2 separate regions of the Homo sapiens genome follow, and region 2 is linked to region 1. A link means that fine-mapping ties the variant in region 1 to the expression of a gene that starts in the linked region. Tissue or cell type: lung. Region 1 holds a variant in brackets; the other region holds the start of a gene. All regions are shown on one strand. Distances are between the middles of the regions.

Region 1 (8,317 bases):
CCGCCAAGAAGTACGCGGTGCCAGCGCTCGAGGCCCATTGCGTGGAGTTCCTGAAGAAGAACCTGCGAGCCGACAACGCCTTCATGCTGCTCACGCAGGTGGGCGGGGCCGGTACGAGGCGGGGGCGGGGCCAGGCCTGGCTGGAGGCGGGGCCGGGGTGGGGCGGACCGAGGCTGGAGGCGGAGGCGGGGCCGGGGGCGGGCCCGGGAGGCAGCAGGCTCCTGCCTGGTAGTAAAATGTGTTTTGGGCCGGGCGTGGTTGCTCACGCCTGTAATCCCGGCACTTTGGGAGGCCGAGGCGGGCAGATCACCTGAGCTCAGGCGTTCCAGACCAGCCTGGCCAACATGGCGAAATCCTATCTCTACTAAAAACACAAAAAAGAGCCGGGCGTGGTGGCGGGCACCTGTAATTCCAGCTACTTGGGAGGCTGAGGCAGGAGAATTGCATGAACCTGGGAGGTGGAGGTTGCAGTGAGCCGAGATCGCACCACTGCACTCCAGCGTGCATGACAGAGCGAGACTCCACCTGAAAAAAAAAGATGTGTTTTGGACTTTTCCGTGATACTTCAAAAAATTATTGGCAGGGTGCGGTGGCTCACGCCTGTAACCCCAGCACTTTGGGAGGCCAAGTAGGGAGGATTGCTTGAGGCCCGGAGTTCTAGACCAGCCTAGGCAACATAGAGAGACCCCGTTTCTACAAAAAATTAAAAAAAGATTCAGGCCGGGCACTGTGGTTCATGCCTGTAATCCCAGCATTTTGGGAGGCTGAGACAGGCAGATCACCAGAGGTCAGGAGTTTGAGACCAGCCTGGCCAACATGGTGAAACCTCATCTCTACTAAAAAAAAATATTTCATAAATTAGCCAAGCACGCTGGTGCATGTCTGGAATCTCAACTACTTGGGGGACCAAAGCAGGAAGATTGCCTGAGCCCGGGAGGTTGAGGCTGCAGTGAGTGGAGATGGCGCCACTGCACTCCAGCCTGAGTGACAGAGTGAGACCCTGTCTCTAAAAAAAAAGTAAAATAATTTTTTTTTGAGACGGGGTTTCTCTTGTTGCCCAGGCTGGAGTGCAATGGCACGATCTCAGCTCACTGCAACCTCCGCCTCCAGCGTTCAAGCGATTCTCCTGCCTCAGCCTCCACAGTAGCTGGGATTACAGGCCCCCACCACCGCGCCTGGCTAAAAAAAAAGAAAAAAAAAAACCAGAGAGAACTTTCTCTCTCTCTCTAAGGAAATGTCAGGTAGACAGAGCAGGGCCAGGGATCTCAGGGGACCCCAGTTGGGCTCTGTGCAGCCCAAAGGGCGGGGGCTGGGGAGGTCGTGCAGGCCAGGGAGGCTGAGAGGACGTGGGGCCAGTACGGGTGGACGGCCGCTTGGGAGCCGTGAGCTCCTGGTCGGGGGTGGAGGGTGGCCAGAGGGGACAGCGGCACTGGGTCCTCCAATGGGCTTTGGGGGTCCGGCATCCTGGAAAGGACCCAGAACCTTCTCCCCCTCCATCCTGGCAGGTCAGATGCAGGGCATCCCGGACTCCCACAGGGAGGGGTTTCTTGTCCGGGTCATCTGGTCGCCTTGCTGGAGAGGCCTCTGCCTGAGCTGAGAGGAGGCTGGAGCTCACTCCCCGGGCTTCATCTTGTGGCTGCCTCAGCCTCCCTGCCCCTAAAACCACTACGAACCCACTTGAGAGGTGTCCTCGGGAGGATGCCCGCAGAAAGGCCTGCCCGGGTCCCTGCTGGCATAGGCCCTTCCAGCACCTTCCACTAACTAAGCCTCTGTTTCCCTAAGAGCACAGGCGTCCTCCAGCTCTGTCACCTGACTGTCAGAAGTCATGTCTGCTGTTTGTCTTGGGATGGAGCTGCCGGGGACACGGCCCCTCCCACCACAAGTGGCCAAGGGCATGTTGTGGTCGGGAAGCTTCACCGGTCGGCCCCGGCCACCTCACCTCTGCCTGCCACTCGGGGTCCTGGGCCCTGCTGCCCCCCGAGTGCAGCTGCAACGCCCCTTTTGCCTAAAGCAGCAGGCCCTGCCGACAGGGACCTGAGCATCTTTTTCTTCCTTCCTTGGCCTCTGAGGTCCTGAGAGGGAACTCCCCAACTCTCCCGCCCCAGTCAGCGGTCACAGGGGAGTCTCTGGGCCCACAACAGGGCCGGCCTGGTGGCTGAGACCCTGGTGGCTCCTGGCCACGCTCAGGAAGGCCCGTGTGGTCAGGGCTGCATTTGAACCGGCCCCGCACTGGGGATCTGCCGAGGGCTGGGTGCTGATGTCCCCACCGCGCCCCCCGTCGATGTCTCTTGCCAGGCGCGACTCTTCGATGAACCGCAGCTGGCCAGCCTGTGCCTGGAGAACATCGACAAAAACACTGCAGACGCCATCACCGCGGAGGGCTTCACCGACATTGACCTGGGTAAGGGCCCAGGAGCCCAGGTGTGGGAATCCCAGCGGGGCCTCGGCGGGAGGGTCCGGGGATTGACAGTGGGAGCTTTGGGCCTGGGGGAGTTGCACAGGTGAGCTGGGGCCTCACCACTTGCAGCAGGTCAGGAGTTTGGGTCCTAGCACAGCCCCACGGGAGTCCGGGGCCTTGGCCAGGAGGCCACAGGCCAGAGCCCACCATCCCAGCTGATGGTGACCATCTCGTCCTCCGATGGTCCATGGCTTTGACTTTGCTGTTGAACAGCTTTTGTCAAAGCTACTCAAGTCTGTCCTTGTGGCTTAAAAACAACCACAGCCGAGGAAAATGAAGGGGCGTGGTCTTGTGTTGATAAAGCTTTATTTATAAACACACTCACAGGGCCAGATTTGGGCCACGGGCCATAGTTGCCAGCCCGGCTTTAACTGCTGGTCCTCACGTTAGTCTCACTGCCTCCTGCAGGGTGGGCATGTGGGTGTCGTGTTCACGCAGCCCCTTCCTCCACCCCACAGACACGCTGGTGGCTGTCCTGGAGCGCGACACACTGGGCATCCGTGAGGTGCGGCTGTTCAATGCCGTTGTCCGCTGGTCCGAGGCCGAGTGTCAGCGGCAGCAGCTGCAGGTGACGCCAGAGAACAGGCGGAAGGTTCTGGGCAAGGCCCTGGGCCTCATTCGCTTCCCGCTCATGACCATCGAGGAGTTCGCTGCAGGTAACAGAGCTCGGGCTCAGGGGCTGGTTTGGGAGGGGAGTGGCACACAGGTGGGCATCTGGGTACCGAGGATAGTGCCCCCGAGTTCACTGCGGAAAGCCTGGCAGATGCCTGGCATATACAGATAGGAAGAAACCTGGCTTGTGAGGACGCGTCCACAGGGCCATCTGTTAGCCCCGGCCCGGCTCTGTCCCCACCGTGCACACTGCCAGACCCCGCCTCTCGTGTCTGTCCAGCTGTTTTGGTGGCATCTTCCCAGGAGGGAAGGGAGTCCCCGTCTCGCGCCCTTGTGCTACCTGCTGGTGCAGGTACCAGTGTCTGTGACGAGCTCAGGAGGGCTCTGACATGGCCGGGGTGGCTGTCATGCGCCCGAGTGGGCCTTGGGGTCCCCTGCTGCAGGGCCTGGGTTCCAGGGTGACGTGAAGGGGCAGCGCTAACGATGCCTCCTGCCCTCGTGGCTGCTCACTGCCTGACGCCATCCAGCTCTGGAGCAAAACAGGCCTGGAACTTTCCAGAAGGGGCTGGGACAGAGCCCTGGGGCTGGTGCACACTCGCCGTCTGGCCTTCCCCAGGTCCACGCGGCCCCCGCTCTTGCTTAGCTGAAGGTCGCCAGATTTAGCAAGAGGGTCTCTGTCGCCCAGGCTGAGTGCGGTGGTACAATCACAGCTCACTGCAGCCTCGACCTCCTGGGCTCAAGTGATCCTCCTGCTTCAGACTCCGGAGTAGCTGGGATCACAGGTGCCACCACCACACAAGGCTTATATTTGTATTTTTTTGTGGGGACAGGGTCTTGCTATGTCACCTGGGCTGGTCATGAACTGGGCTCCAGCCATCCTCCCATCTCGGCCTCACAAAGTGCTGGGATTATGGACATGGGCCACCGAGCCTGGCTAGATACATACTTCTTAAAAATACAACTGTTGATCAGCTGGGTGTGGTGGCTCATGCCTGTAATCCCAGCTACCCGGGAGGCTGAGGCAGGAGAATCACTTGAACCCAGGAGGTGGAGGTTGTGATGAGCCGAGATCGCGCCACTGCACTCCAGCCTGGGCAACAAGAGTGAAACTCCATTTAAAATAAAAAAATATATACAATTGTTGGCCAGGCTGGGTCACTCACTCCTGTAATCCCAGCACTTTGGGAGGCCCAAGATGGGGGGAATCACTTGAGGTCAGGAGTTTGAGACCAGCCTGACCAACAGGGTGAAACCCCGTCTCTACTAAAAATACAAGATTAGCTGGGCATGGTGGCGCATGCCTGTAAACCCAGCTATGCTGGAGGCTGAGGCAGGAGAATTGCTTGAACCCTGGAGACGGATGTTGCGGTGAGCCGAGATTACGCCACTGCACTCTAGCCTGGGGGACAAGAGCGAAACTCCGTCCTGCACTCTAGCCTGGGGGACAAGAGCGAAACTCCGTCTCAAAAAAAAAAAAAATTGTTAACATTGTTTATTGAGTTTTGATACTCAGTCTTCCTGATTCACTTAACCCATAATGGTCTGTTTCTCACCAGTTATTAAACTGTGTCTGCACTGGGCTGGCTTGCAGCTGAGCGATGC[G/A]GAGTTGAGCCCACCTTGGTTGATGAGTGATTAGGTCTCAGGCAGGCAGGGCTGCTCTCATTAGAGCAGAGGGTGCTGTGTCCTGGCACTCCTGGGGGTGGATGGTGGACCCCCAATTCTGCCCCTCCTGGCCTCCCCTCCCTACCCAGAGCCCCTTCACATCCCATGCACAGTCCCTCTGCCTGTGACATCTCTGCACCGGGATTAAGAGCCTGGCTCTTGGAGTCTGCCTGGGGTCCGCTAGCCATCACCCCTGGGGGTGTAAGCGCTTGAGAAGGTGTCTGCCTAGGGCCCACCGTGGAGAGGAACCCCCAGACTGCTTCTAGAAGCCAGGGCTGCAGCCTGGGGGGTACAGGCCTAGCAGGGAGCCACAGTGACCCCTCCCAGCCAATGGCCCTGAGAGAACAGGCAGTGGAGCCCCCCGCCCCCACCCACAGTGAAGTGACGGGTGGTCCCTACAGTGGGGCCAGACCCTGAGACATCACCCCTGAGTGAGTGCATCTGTCAGACCCTGAGGCATCGCCCCTGAGTGAGCGTATCTGTCGGCCTCTGGTCTGTGCCCTGGGACCTCTCCCTAAAAGCCCAGGCAGCAGGGGCCATGGCTGGTGGCTAGTCCCCCGGGGAGGGGCTGCCCAGGTCCCTGCACCTTGAAAGTCCGACGCAGACATCTTAGGGGGAAGGAGCGTGTCCTCCCAGGCACTCGGGATCCTGGGGTGCAGCCCGGCCCTCCCCCACACCCTCCCTGTGCTGCAGGTCCCGCACAGTCGGGCATCCTGGTGGACCGCGAGGTGGTCAGCCTCTTCCTGCACTTCACCGTCAACCCCAAGCCACGAGTGGAGTTCATTGACCGGCCCCGCTGCTGCCTGCGTGGGAAGGAGTGCAGCATCAACCGCTTCCAGCAGGTGGAGAGTCGCTGGGGCTACAGCGGGACCAGTGACCGCATCAGGTGGGGCTTGGGGTGCAGGCGGGGGGGTCCGGACATGGGGGTGGAGGACTCGGGGATGACGGAGATGGGGGGCCGGGCATGGGGGTGGAGAACTCAGGGATGATGAAGACGGCGGGGGGGCCGCCGGGCATGGGGGTGGAGGACTCAGGGACGATGGAGGGGACCGGGCATGGGGGTGGGCTCGCCCCAGCTCACCTTAGGCTATCCCTGGGTATCCACGCTGCTGCCTGTCATCTGCCACGGCAGGTTCTCAGTCAACAAGCGCATCTTCGTGGTGGGATTTGGGCTGTATGGATCCATCCACGGGCCCACCGACTACCAAGTGAACATCCAGGTACCAGCCCCAAGCCTCATCCCCAGGCCCCACTCAGGCCCATGTCCTCTCTCCACCTCCATGGAACCCTGGCTGAACCCCCGGCCCTGGTCCCTGTGCTGCCCCCACCCTGGGCAGGTGGGCTGGGCCTCGAGGGGTCCCCGTTGGCCCTCCCCAGGCCTGAGCCTCCCACTTCCCACCTCCCCGCAGATTATTCACACCGATAGCAACACCGTCTTGGGCCAGAACGACACGGGCTTCAGCTGCGACGGCTCAGCCAGCACCTTCCGCGTCATGTTCAAGGAGCCGGTGGAGGTGCTGCCCAACGTCAACTACACGGCCTGTGCCACGCTCAAGGTGCGCCGCCGGGGACAGGGGTCCCTCCGTGGGAGTCTCTGGCCCATCCTGAAGCCACCGGGGCACAGCACACACTCTCCAGAGGCAGCCACCCTGGCCCAGTCGGGGCCTTGCCCTGTCCACACCTGGGGCATCCCAGCCTGGTGGTCCTTGACCTCACTGTACCCCTATTCCCTACAGGGCCCAGACTCCCACTACGGCACCAAAGGCCTGCGCAAGGTGACACACGAGTCGCCCACCACGGGCGCCAAGACCTGCTTCACCTTTTGCTACGCGGCCGGGAACAACAATGGCACATCCGTGGAGGACGGCCAGATCCCCGAGGTCATCTTCTACACCTAGGCTGCCCGACACCGACACCGCCCTCCCTCCGTGGGGATAGCCGCAGCCCCAGGCCATCATCTGCTGCTGGGGCCCCCCCACCACGCGGTGCCAGGCCCAGTGTCCCCCAGGCCGTCTGTCCACTCCATGCCACCTTTCTCAGCATCAGGACGGGGTTGCCCTGTGTTCACCACGAGTGTGGCTGCTGGATCAGGGCAGCCGGGGAGGTGGCCAGGCCAGTGGCCAGGCCCTGTGGAGACAATCCCTCAGGACTAGGGACAGGGCTGTGCCGGCCTGGGCCAGGGCCCACGGACCCGCAGCTCAGGGCGCCTGCCCACGTCGTCTGCCGGCGGTGCGCCGCGGGCGTCCCTCGCGTCTCTTCACTGCACATTGCAATGCATTTGCGATTCCCATTTCTCTGCTAGGAGCCAGCCTGGGTGGCGCTGCTCCCAGAGCCGTGGGTCCCAGACCTTGCGTTCCTTTTGTTCCTGTCCGTTTATCAGGACACGGGCCCCACCTGTCACGTGCCCGAGGCCACCCAAGCCCAGCCTGCGGGGCGTTCCCACTGCCTGGATGCCGGCTTGAGTTCTGCGCACGCAGGATTCAGTGTGGGGACGGCCCCTGCCGGATAGGCCTAGCCCTGGCCCAGGTGGTGAGCGGTTTGCAGTGTCCGTTCTCATCCACCTGATGGGCCCAGATAAAGGCCCCCGCTGTCCAGCCTCCCTGGACGGCCCTCGCGGTCCCTGCAGCCCAAGATGGGACTCAGACCCTGTGCCCCAGAGCTCCCCTGCCGCAGAATGGGGCCCCAGCCGGCCCCGACCGGGTCCAGGAGCACTGCTCGCCTGTACATACTGTTGCCCTAGCCCACCTGGTGCCGTGGGAGCCACCCCCAGGTGCTGGGGGCACAGCCCCTCCCCACTCCGGCCACGCCCCCACCCACCCCGCGTGTTTCTGCCCTGTGACTCCTGGAACCTGCGTCCTCCCCAAAGCCATGGGAGGGGTGTCCTCCTCAGACCATGCCCCCAGATGATTTTTTTAAATAAAGAAACAAATGCACCTGCCTTGAGCGCACACTGCTTTGCTCCCCTTCACTCTCTGCCCTGTCATCCGGGCTGCAGTGGGCGAGGGATGTCGTGCGCCGAGAGGGGCCCTGAACCCCGGGTCTGGTCGCCAGTGCTGCGAGACCCTCCTTAAGTACCCACAGGCCACACTGAAGCCCGGGAGGTCGAGACTGCAGTGAGCAGTGATGCACCACTGCCCTCCCCCCTGGGCAAGAGCAAGACCCTAACTAACTCAACACCTCCCCCCAAACCCAAATGCAATGGACGTGTGTGCCGATTTCCCCGTGGGGAGGCCCTGCTGGCTGCTGGGGGACCGTGGATGTGAGAGATGGAGAGAAAGCAGGGAGTGCCCAGTTGTGGCCTCAGTGGCCAGAGAAGTCAAGCCGTTGGCTGCTGCCTCAGGAGCACACGTGCAGGGCAAGACATCAAGAAACCCGGCAGCAAGGCCGCGTGGTGGCTCACACGTCATTACAGCACCTTGGGAGGCCGGGCGGGTGGATCACCTGAGGTCAGGAGTTCAGGACCAACCTGGCCGACATGGTGAAACCCCATCTCTACTAAAAACACAAAAATTAGCCAGGTATGGTGGCAGGCACCTGTAATCCCAGCTACTTGGGAGGCTGAGGCAGGCGAATCGCTTGAACCTG
Region 2 (8,317 bases), 26 kb before region 1:
TCACATGGGCCGGGTGCGGTGGCTCCCGCCTGTAATCCCAGTATTTTGGGAGGCCAAGATGGGCAGATCAGGAGGTCAGGAGATCGAGACCATCCTGGCTAACACGGTGAAACTCCGTCTCTACTAAAAATACAAAAAAATTAGCCGGGCGTGGTGGCAGGCGCCTGTAGTCCCAGCTACTTGGGAGGCTGAGGCAGAAGAATGGTGTTAACCCGGGAGGCAGAGCTTGCAGTGAGCCGAGATCGCGCCACTGCACTCCAGCTTGGGCGACAGAGCAAGACTCTGTCTCAAGAAAAAAAAAAAAAAAAAAAAAATCTCCACATGGCCGAGTGGTTCACACCTGTAATCCCAGCGTTTTGGGAGGCCTAGCGAGAAGATTGCTTGAGCCTAGGAGTTCATGAGCAGCCTGGGCGACAAAGTGAGATCCCGTGTGTGTGTGTGCCTGTGTGTGCGCGCACGCGTGCGTGTGTGTTAGGCAGGGCCTCACTTTGTCGCCCAGGCTGGAGTGCAGTGGCACAATCTCAGCCTCCCCAGCTGTAGCCATCCTCCCACTTCAGCCTCCCAAAAGCTGGGACTACCGGCACACACCAGAACACCTTGTTAATTTTGTATTTTTTTGTGGAGACAGGGTTTCACTATGTTGGCCAGGCTGGTCTCGAACTCCTGAACTCAAGTAATCTGCCTGCCTCGGCCTCCGAAAGTGCTGGGATTACAGGCGTGAGCTACCATGGCTGGCCTACAGCTCTTTAAAAAAAAAAAAGTCCAGGCGCGGTGGCTCACATCTGTAATCCCAGCACTTTAGGAGGCCGAGGTGGGCGGATCACGAGGTCAGGAGATAGAGACCATCCTGGCTAACACGATGAAACCCCGACTCTACTAAAAATACAAAAAAAAAAAAAAAATTAGCCGGGCATGGTGGCAGGCGCCTGTAGTCCCAGCTACTCGGGGGGCTGAGGCAGGAGAATGGCATGAACCTGGAAGGCAGAGCTTACAGTGAGCCGAGATTGCACCACTGCACTCTGGCCTGGGTGGCAGAACGAGACTCCATCTCAAAAAAAAAAAAAAAAAAAAAAAAAAAAAAAATCGTGAACATCTCAGCATTCCGTAAAGTTCACCCTTTCCTCAGACAACCTACCATTTTGTTAATTTCTGTCACCATGGCAGGTATGCCTGTTCTGCACCTTCATCTAGAAGGGACTGCACAGATGTCCTCTTTAGGATTTGGCTGGAAAGATGTCACTTTGCAAATGTATGAGATGAGAGATAAGAAAGTTGACATTTAGAGGCCGGCTGTGATGGCTCCCGCCTGTAATCCCAGCACTTGGGGAGGCCAAGGCAGGCGGATCACCTGAGGTCGGGAGTTCGAGACCAGCCTGACCAACATGGAGAAACCCCGTCTCTACTAAAAATACAAAATTAGCCGGGCGTGGTGGTGCATGTAATCCCAGCTACTCAGGAGGCTGAGGCAGGAGAATCGCTTGAATCCGGGAGGCGGAGGTTGTGGTGAGCTGAGATCGTGCCACTGCACTCCAGCCTGGGCGACAGAGCAAGACTGTCTCAAAAAAAAAAAAAAAAAAAAAAAAAAATATATATATATATATATATATGTATATACATACACACACACACATATAAAATTAGCCAGGCATGGTGGCAGGCGCCTGTAGTTCCAGCTACTCGGGAGGCTGAGGCAGGAGAATGGCGTGAATCTGGGAGGCGGAGCTTACAGTGAGCCAAGATCGCGCCACTGCACTCCAGCCTGGGCGACAGAACGAGACTGTCTCAAAAACAAAACAAACAAACAAAAAAAAATTAGCCTTAGCCAGGCGTGGTGGCGGGTACCTGTAACCCCAGCTACTCAGGAGGCTGAGGCGGGAGAATTGCTTGAACCAGGAGGCTGAGATTGCAGTGAGCCAAGATCGCCATCACTGCACCCCAGCCTGGGCAATAGAGGGAGACTCTAAAAAGAAAAAAGAAAAAAGAAAAAAAAATTGTAACTACCTCAACCACCCACTCTGGAGAACTGAAAATAGCATTATCACTTGGGTTTTTTTAATACCCTATTTTCTTTTTCTTCTTTGTTTTTTTTTTTTTTCGAGACAGGATCTTGCTCTGTTGCCCAGGCTGGAGGGCAGTGGTGGAGTCATAGCTCATCAAAAGCTCAACCTTCCAGGCTCAAGTGATGCTTCCGTCTCAGCCTTCTGAGTAGCTGGGACAACAGGTGCGTACCACCACGCCTAGTTTTTTTTTTGTTTTGTTTTGTTTGTTTGTTTGTTTGTTTGAGACGGAGTTTTGTTCTTGTTGTTCAGGCTGGAGTGCAATGGCGCGGTCTCGGCTCACTGCAACCTCCGCCTCCCAGGTTCAAGTGATTCTCCTGCCTCAGCCTCCCGAGTAGCTGGGATTACAGGCACCCGCCACCAAGCCTGGCTAATTTTCGTATTTTTAGTAGAGATGGGGTTTCACCATGATGGGGTTTCACCAGGATGGTCTCGATCTCCCGACCTGGTGATCCGCCCGCCTCGGCCTCCCAAAGTGCTGGGATTACAGACGTGAGCCACCGCGCCTGGCTAATTTTTGTATTTTTTGTAGAGACAGGGTTTTGCCATGTTGCCCAGGCTGGTCTCCAACTCTTGACCTTAGGTGATGCACCCCCCGCCTTGGCCTCCTGAAGTGCTGGGATTACAGGCGTGAGCCACTGCGCCCGACCTGGTTCCTCAATCTTTGTGGCATTTGTCTACCTTGACATTATGTATGTAGTAAGCGTTTTGGGGGAGTCCCAGCTCCGTCCACACTGACCACCCCCCACACCTGGCCTGGAGAGGGTGCTGGGCGTCTGCTGAGTGTCAGTGCACGTGGCCTGCATCCTGCTCGCTCATCCGCAGCTTCCCGGCCTCAGGCTATGTCTCTGTACAGCGGAGCCTGCGCCACGGAGCAGGCCCGCCACCTGGGTCCGGGGTCTGGGGTCTGGAGTTTGCGCTTGGTCTTTGGGTTGGGGGTTCCGGGTCTGAGGTATGGGATCTGGAATCCGGAGTCTGAAGTCTGGGGTTCAGAGTCTGGGATCTAGGATTCAAGGTCTGAGGCCTGGGATCCCGGACTGAGGTCTGTGCTCCAGGGTTTAGGATTCCCGGTCTGGAGTCTGGGGCCTGGTGCCTGGACCCCAAATTCTGGACCTCGGTCTGGAGTCTGGGCTTCAGGTCAGGATGCTTAGGGAGTGGAGCAAGAGGTCTTCCACCAGCTCCTCCCCTCTACAGGCCCCTCCTACTCTTCCCTCTCCTCCCCGTCCCCTCCCCTGCAACAGCCTCCCCCATTCACCTCCCTTCTCCCCTCCCTCCTCCCCTCCCACCTCCCCTCCTTTCCCCTCCCTCTCCTCCCCTCCCTCCTTCCCCCTCCTTTCCCCTCCCTCTCCTCCCCTCCCTCCTTCCCCCTCCTTTCCCCTCCCTCTCCTCCCCTCCCTCCTTCCCCCTCCTTTCCCCTCCCTCTCCTCCCCTCCCTCCTTCCCCCTCCTTTCCCCTCCCTCTCCTCCCCTCCCTCCTTCCCGCTTCCCCTCCCCTCCCTCCTCCCCTCCTTTCCCCTCCCTCCTCTTTTCCCCTCCCCTCCCTCCTCCCCCTCCTCCCCCTACTCTCCTCCTTTCCCCTCCCTCCTTCCCTCCTCCCCTCCCTCCTTCCCTCCTCCCCTCCCCCGCCCACGCCGCAGCCACAAAATGGCGGCGGGTGGGAGCGGCGGGCGTGCGTCGTGCCCGCCGGGGGTCGGGGTCGGCCCGGGCACGGGGGGCAGTCCCGGGCCCAGCGCCAACGCCGCCGCCACCCCGGCCCCCGGCAACGCGGCCGCCGCCGCCGCCGCCGCCGCCGCCGCCGCCGCCGCCCCTGGGCCGACGCCGCCCGCCCCGCCGGGCCCCGGGACAGACGCGCAGGCCGCGGGCGCGGAGCGGGCGGAGGAGGCGGCGGGCCCGGGGGCGGCGGCGCTGCAGCGCGAGGCCGCGTACAACTGGCAGGCCAGCAAGCCCACCGTGCAGGAGCGCTTCGCCTTCCTCTTCAACAACGAGGTGCTGTGCGACGTGCACTTCCTGGTGGGCAAGGGGCTCAGCTCGCAGCGCATCCCCGCGCACAGGTGGGCGCCCCGACCCCGCCAGCCCTGGCCCCGACCCACCCAGCCTGCTGCCCGGGCCCTGCACCTGAGGCCCTGCACCCCTCTGTCCCCGAGACCCCCGCACCCCTCCATCCCCGAGCCCTGCACCCCTCTGTCCCCGGGACCCCTGCACCCCTGCATCCTCAGGCTCCGAACCCAACTCGGCCTGCACCCCGGGGCCTGCACCTGAGGCCCTGCACCCCTCTGTCCCTGGGACCCCTGCACCCCTCCGGTCCTGAAACCGACCCGGCCTGCACCCCGGGGCCTGCACCCTTCCATCCCTAGACTCCACCCAGTTCCCTGGGCTCTGCACCCCTCTGTCCCTGCCTCTGCACCTCTCTGTCCCCAGACCCCACCAGGCCTGCACTCTGGGCCTCTGCACCCCTCCATCCCCAGGCCCCCCTGGATCCTCCACCTCTGGCTTGCGCCCCCAGCCTGTTCCCCGGGATCCCAGGCCCTGTACCCCTGGGACCCCTGCTCTCCTCCGTCCCTGGACCCACCCAGCCTGCACTCCGGTACCCTCCGTTCCTGGGACCCTCCAACTCGGCCTGCACTTGGAGCCCCTGGGCCCCTCCATCCTCAAACCCCACCCAGCCCGCACCCCAGAACCCTGAATACCCCATCCTCAGGGCCCTCCACCCCCCGCCTGCACCCTAGGACCCTCCATTCTTCCATCCCCAGGACGCTCCATCCCTGGACCTCACCCCTCCCTGCACCCCAGGTCCCCAGACACCTCTGCCCCCAGATCCCTGGGCCCCTCCACCTCCGGCTGGAACCCCTGCCTACACCCCAGGCCCCTCCATCCCTGGACCCCACCTGGCCTGCATCCCTGGGTCCCCTCCATGCCCTGGCCCTGCACCCCCACCCACCACCCCTGGGACTCCTGTGACCCTCCAACCCTGGGACGTGTACCCCTATCTGCTCCTCCATTCCCAGGACCCCAACCCACTGTTTCTAGGACCCATGACCCCACATGCCACACCCCTCCATCCCTATACCCGGGGATCCTCAGGACCCCTCCATCCCCAGGCCCTGCACCCTTGCCTGCCGCCCCTCTCCCCCTGGGACCCCTACTGGTGACCCCTCCGTCCCTGTACCCAGGGACTCTCCAGGACCCCTCCTTCCCCAGGTCCTTCACCCCTGCCCACTGCCCTTCCACTCTCTACTCCCGGGGCCCCCTGGGACCCCACTACACTCAAGTGTGTCACCCCTGCATCCCAGGATGGAGAGACTTCTCCGCTCTCACCTGAGACCCCCCGTCCCCAGTCCTCACCACCTCAGTCCGTAACCCCCAACCTATGACTCCTGAACTCCAGGACCCCTCCCTTCAGGGGTCGTGCTATTTCCTCCACCCCCACCCATGACCACAAGACCCCTCCCTCTTCCCCCACCATCCAGGGACCCTGCCACTCCCACCCGCACCCCTGTGCGCCAAGACCCCTAGGCCTTGCTCCCTGCGTCCTCCCTGCTGCCTCCAGACCCAGTGACCCCCACCGGAGACCCCCAGGCTCAGCACATGATCTGGATCAGAGACCTTCAAACCATGCTGCTCCCCTCCAGGGATACCCCCTGCCCGCCCTGCAGTCCAGATCATAGACTACCATCCACAGCCCCTCCAGCCCCGGACCCCCACCTCAGCCAGAGACCCCTGGGCCCTGCCACCTCCCACTTCAGTGACCACCCACCTCCAGCTCCGCCACTGCCAGGCTCTGGACCCTGGACTCTGCAGAAGGTTGTCTCCCCTGGGCCCTGCTACCCCCTGCACCCCATCCTATGATCCCCTGCCACCAGGCCACCACCCTAGACCCCTGCCCAGACTCCCATCTCCGGGCCCTTCCAACCCAGAGACCCCCAGCTCCGGGGTCCCTCCCTCCCCAGCCCCCAGCCCTCCTTTCTGGGAAAGAAGTGGGTTTGGCCCAGTATCTGTCTTTGCCAGTGTGCGGGGTACCGGCCCCAGGCCCCAGGTTCCCTCCACTCCCCGGTCCCTCTTACCCTGCCCCTCATTGGTCGGGGGCAGGGGCTGGGTTTTCTTGCTGCGGGCACTGGAGGGGGAGGGTCCTGCCCTCCCTTCTGACCTTCGGGTGCTTTTGTTAACGTGTTCTGGCTTCTTCCTGGGTGTTTATGGGCAGCTGGGTCTCCTTTCGTGGGGTCCTGCCCTGGGCGGTACTTAGCAGAGGTTCCTGCCCCTGGAGGGTTCCGGGGCCTCCTACGGCTTGTGCCGTCCGTGTCGCCGTCCCTGTCTCTGTCGTCCTTAGCTGCTGGGCCTCTCCTAGCTTGGAGTGAGGGGCGGTGGGTTTGCTCCCTCCACCTGGGTGGTCTTTGTGCTCTTTGGGGAGGGGGTAGGTTGGATGCAGCTGGAACTCACCCAGCAGCAGGTGCAGCTGGAGAATCCCAGGCTTTCTGTTTGAGGGGGGAGGTGGGGCGCCCCGGGCACCGGCTGACCTTGGGACATGTATGCGATTGCACTTGAGGGACCGCTGGCTCGGTTGCAAAGTGGGGAAGATGGAGGCAGGACAAGGACCCCTTGGAGAAAAGTAGGTGAGGGGTCTGCCCCCGGGGGGCTCAGGAGAGGGCAATGAGGCCCAGCGGGAGATAGCAGCAAGGTAAGGTGGGCGGGCCTGGGACAGCGGACCCTCGACATGCGGGGTTAGGGGCGTGGACCCCCACTCAGCTCAAATCCAAGTACAACTTTTGACTCCCACGAACTTAACTAGGAATGGCTTCTCGCTGACCGGAGGCCTTGTGAGGACACTTGGTCAATGCACACCAGCCTCCTGTTCTCACAATAACAGGCTGGAGAACAGAAAATACATTCAGAAAAGTCTAAGGGGCCGGGTGCGGGGGCGCACGCCTGGAATCCCAGCACTTTGGGAGGCCGAGGCGGGCAGATCACGAGGTCGGGAGATCGAGACCAGCCTGGTCAACACGGTGAAACCCTGTCTCTACAAAAATACAAAAATTAGCCGGGCGTGGTGGCGCACACCTGTAATCCCAGCTACTCAGGAGGCTGAGGCAGGAGAATCTCGTGAACCCAGGAGGTGGAGGTTGCAGGGAACCGAGATTGCGCCATTGCACTCCAGCCCAGGCGACACAGTGACACACCATCTCAAAAAAAATAAAGGACAGGCTGGGCGCGGTGGCTCACGCCTGTAATCCCAGCACTTTGGGAGGCCGAGGCGGGCGAATCATGAGGTCAGGAGTTTGAGACCATCCTGGCCAACGTGGTGAAACACCGTCTCTACTAAAAATACAAAAAATTAGCCGGGTGTGGTGGTGCACAACTGTAGTCCCAGCTACTTGGGAGGCTGAGGCAGGAGAATCACTTGAACCCGGGAGGCGGAGGTTGCAGTGAGCCGAGGTTGCGCTACTGCACTCCAGCCTGGGCGACAGAGCAAGACTCTGTCTCAAAAAAAAAAGGAAAAAAAATAAAAGGAGAAATCCTGTTTGCTGTTCACACAGTGGAGGTGGCCACGATGAAGGCCTGTGTCCTTGTGTTCATATTGAGGGCTGAGGAGCAGGAGCAGGAGGGTGGGTCTGTCTCCGGGGTGGCAGAGGTGGAAGGGGAGGCAGGAGAGGCCGGCACCGTTGGGGCAGCCTTTATTGAAAAAATTCACATATGAGTGGACCTGTGCAGTTGAAGCCTGCCTTGTTGAAAGGTCATCTGTGTTTCCTTAGCATTTCAGGAGGGTTGAAAATGGAGAGGGGGCACTGACCTGGTCCAGAACGACCCCCTGAGCAAGTGATGTTGATGGAGAGTGCAGTGCCCCAGGCTCAGGGATGGAAGGCCCAGAGCCCAGAGGGGCTGGGCAGGTGGGAGCCATGGCAAGGCCGGAGCAGGAGGAGTGAGGGAGGCCCTGTGGCCCAGTGTGACCAGATCCGCATTGAGGGTGGAACGCGCCGTGGATGGGCCCAGGAGCGAGGCTGGGGAGTAGCAGCTGCAGACTCCAGGCAGGAGACAGCAGCGGGCTCGGTGGGGACGGCAGAAATGAGGGGTAGAGGATGCAGGTCCTCTTTGGAGGAAGCGAGTTCCTGTGGCCAGGAGAGGAGGCAGCTTGGCAGGTGAGGGCGTGGGGGGCTGTGGTGGGGGTCCCCAGACTTCTGGCTGGAGCATCACAAGCCAGGACAGGCTCAGGAGGGACAAGTACTGGCTTGGATGTGTTGGCGGGACCTGGGGCTGAGAGGTCCGCAGAGC

Evidence for each region. PIP is the estimated chance that this variant, and not a neighbour inherited with it, causes the effect.
Region 2: it holds the start of BTBD2, and the variant in region 1 is fine-mapped to the expression of BTBD2 in lung (GTEx, PIP 0.93).

The regions. Positions count from the first base shown.
Region 1 is chr19:1,984,801-1,993,117 of GRCh38, reverse strand. BTBD2 (BTB domain containing 2) reads left to right here. Exons shown (of 9, transcript NM_017797.4): 3 at 1-98; 4 at 2,296-2,401; 5 at 2,917-3,114; 6 at 5,426-5,618; 7 at 5,865-5,952; 8 at 6,142-6,288; 9 at 6,469-7,670. The coding sequence ends at 6,630. LOC124904610 (a long non-coding RNA gene) reads right to left here and starts at 5,426. Exons shown (of 2, transcript XR_007067086.1): 1 at 4,624-5,426; 2 at 2,748-4,160. The variant G/A (reference allele first, on the strand shown) is at 4,673.
Region 2 is chr19:2,011,087-2,019,403 of GRCh38, reverse strand. It overlaps BTBD2 (BTB domain containing 2), which reads left to right and starts at 3,690. Exons shown (of 9, transcript NM_017797.4): 1 at 3,690-4,107. The coding sequence starts at 3,701. LOC107985278 (a long non-coding RNA gene) reads left to right here. Exons shown (of 4, transcript XR_001753845.2): 3 at 2,104-2,221; 4 at 2,310-3,059. RefSeq lists silencers at 3,884-4,033, 4,044-4,093, 6,909-7,100.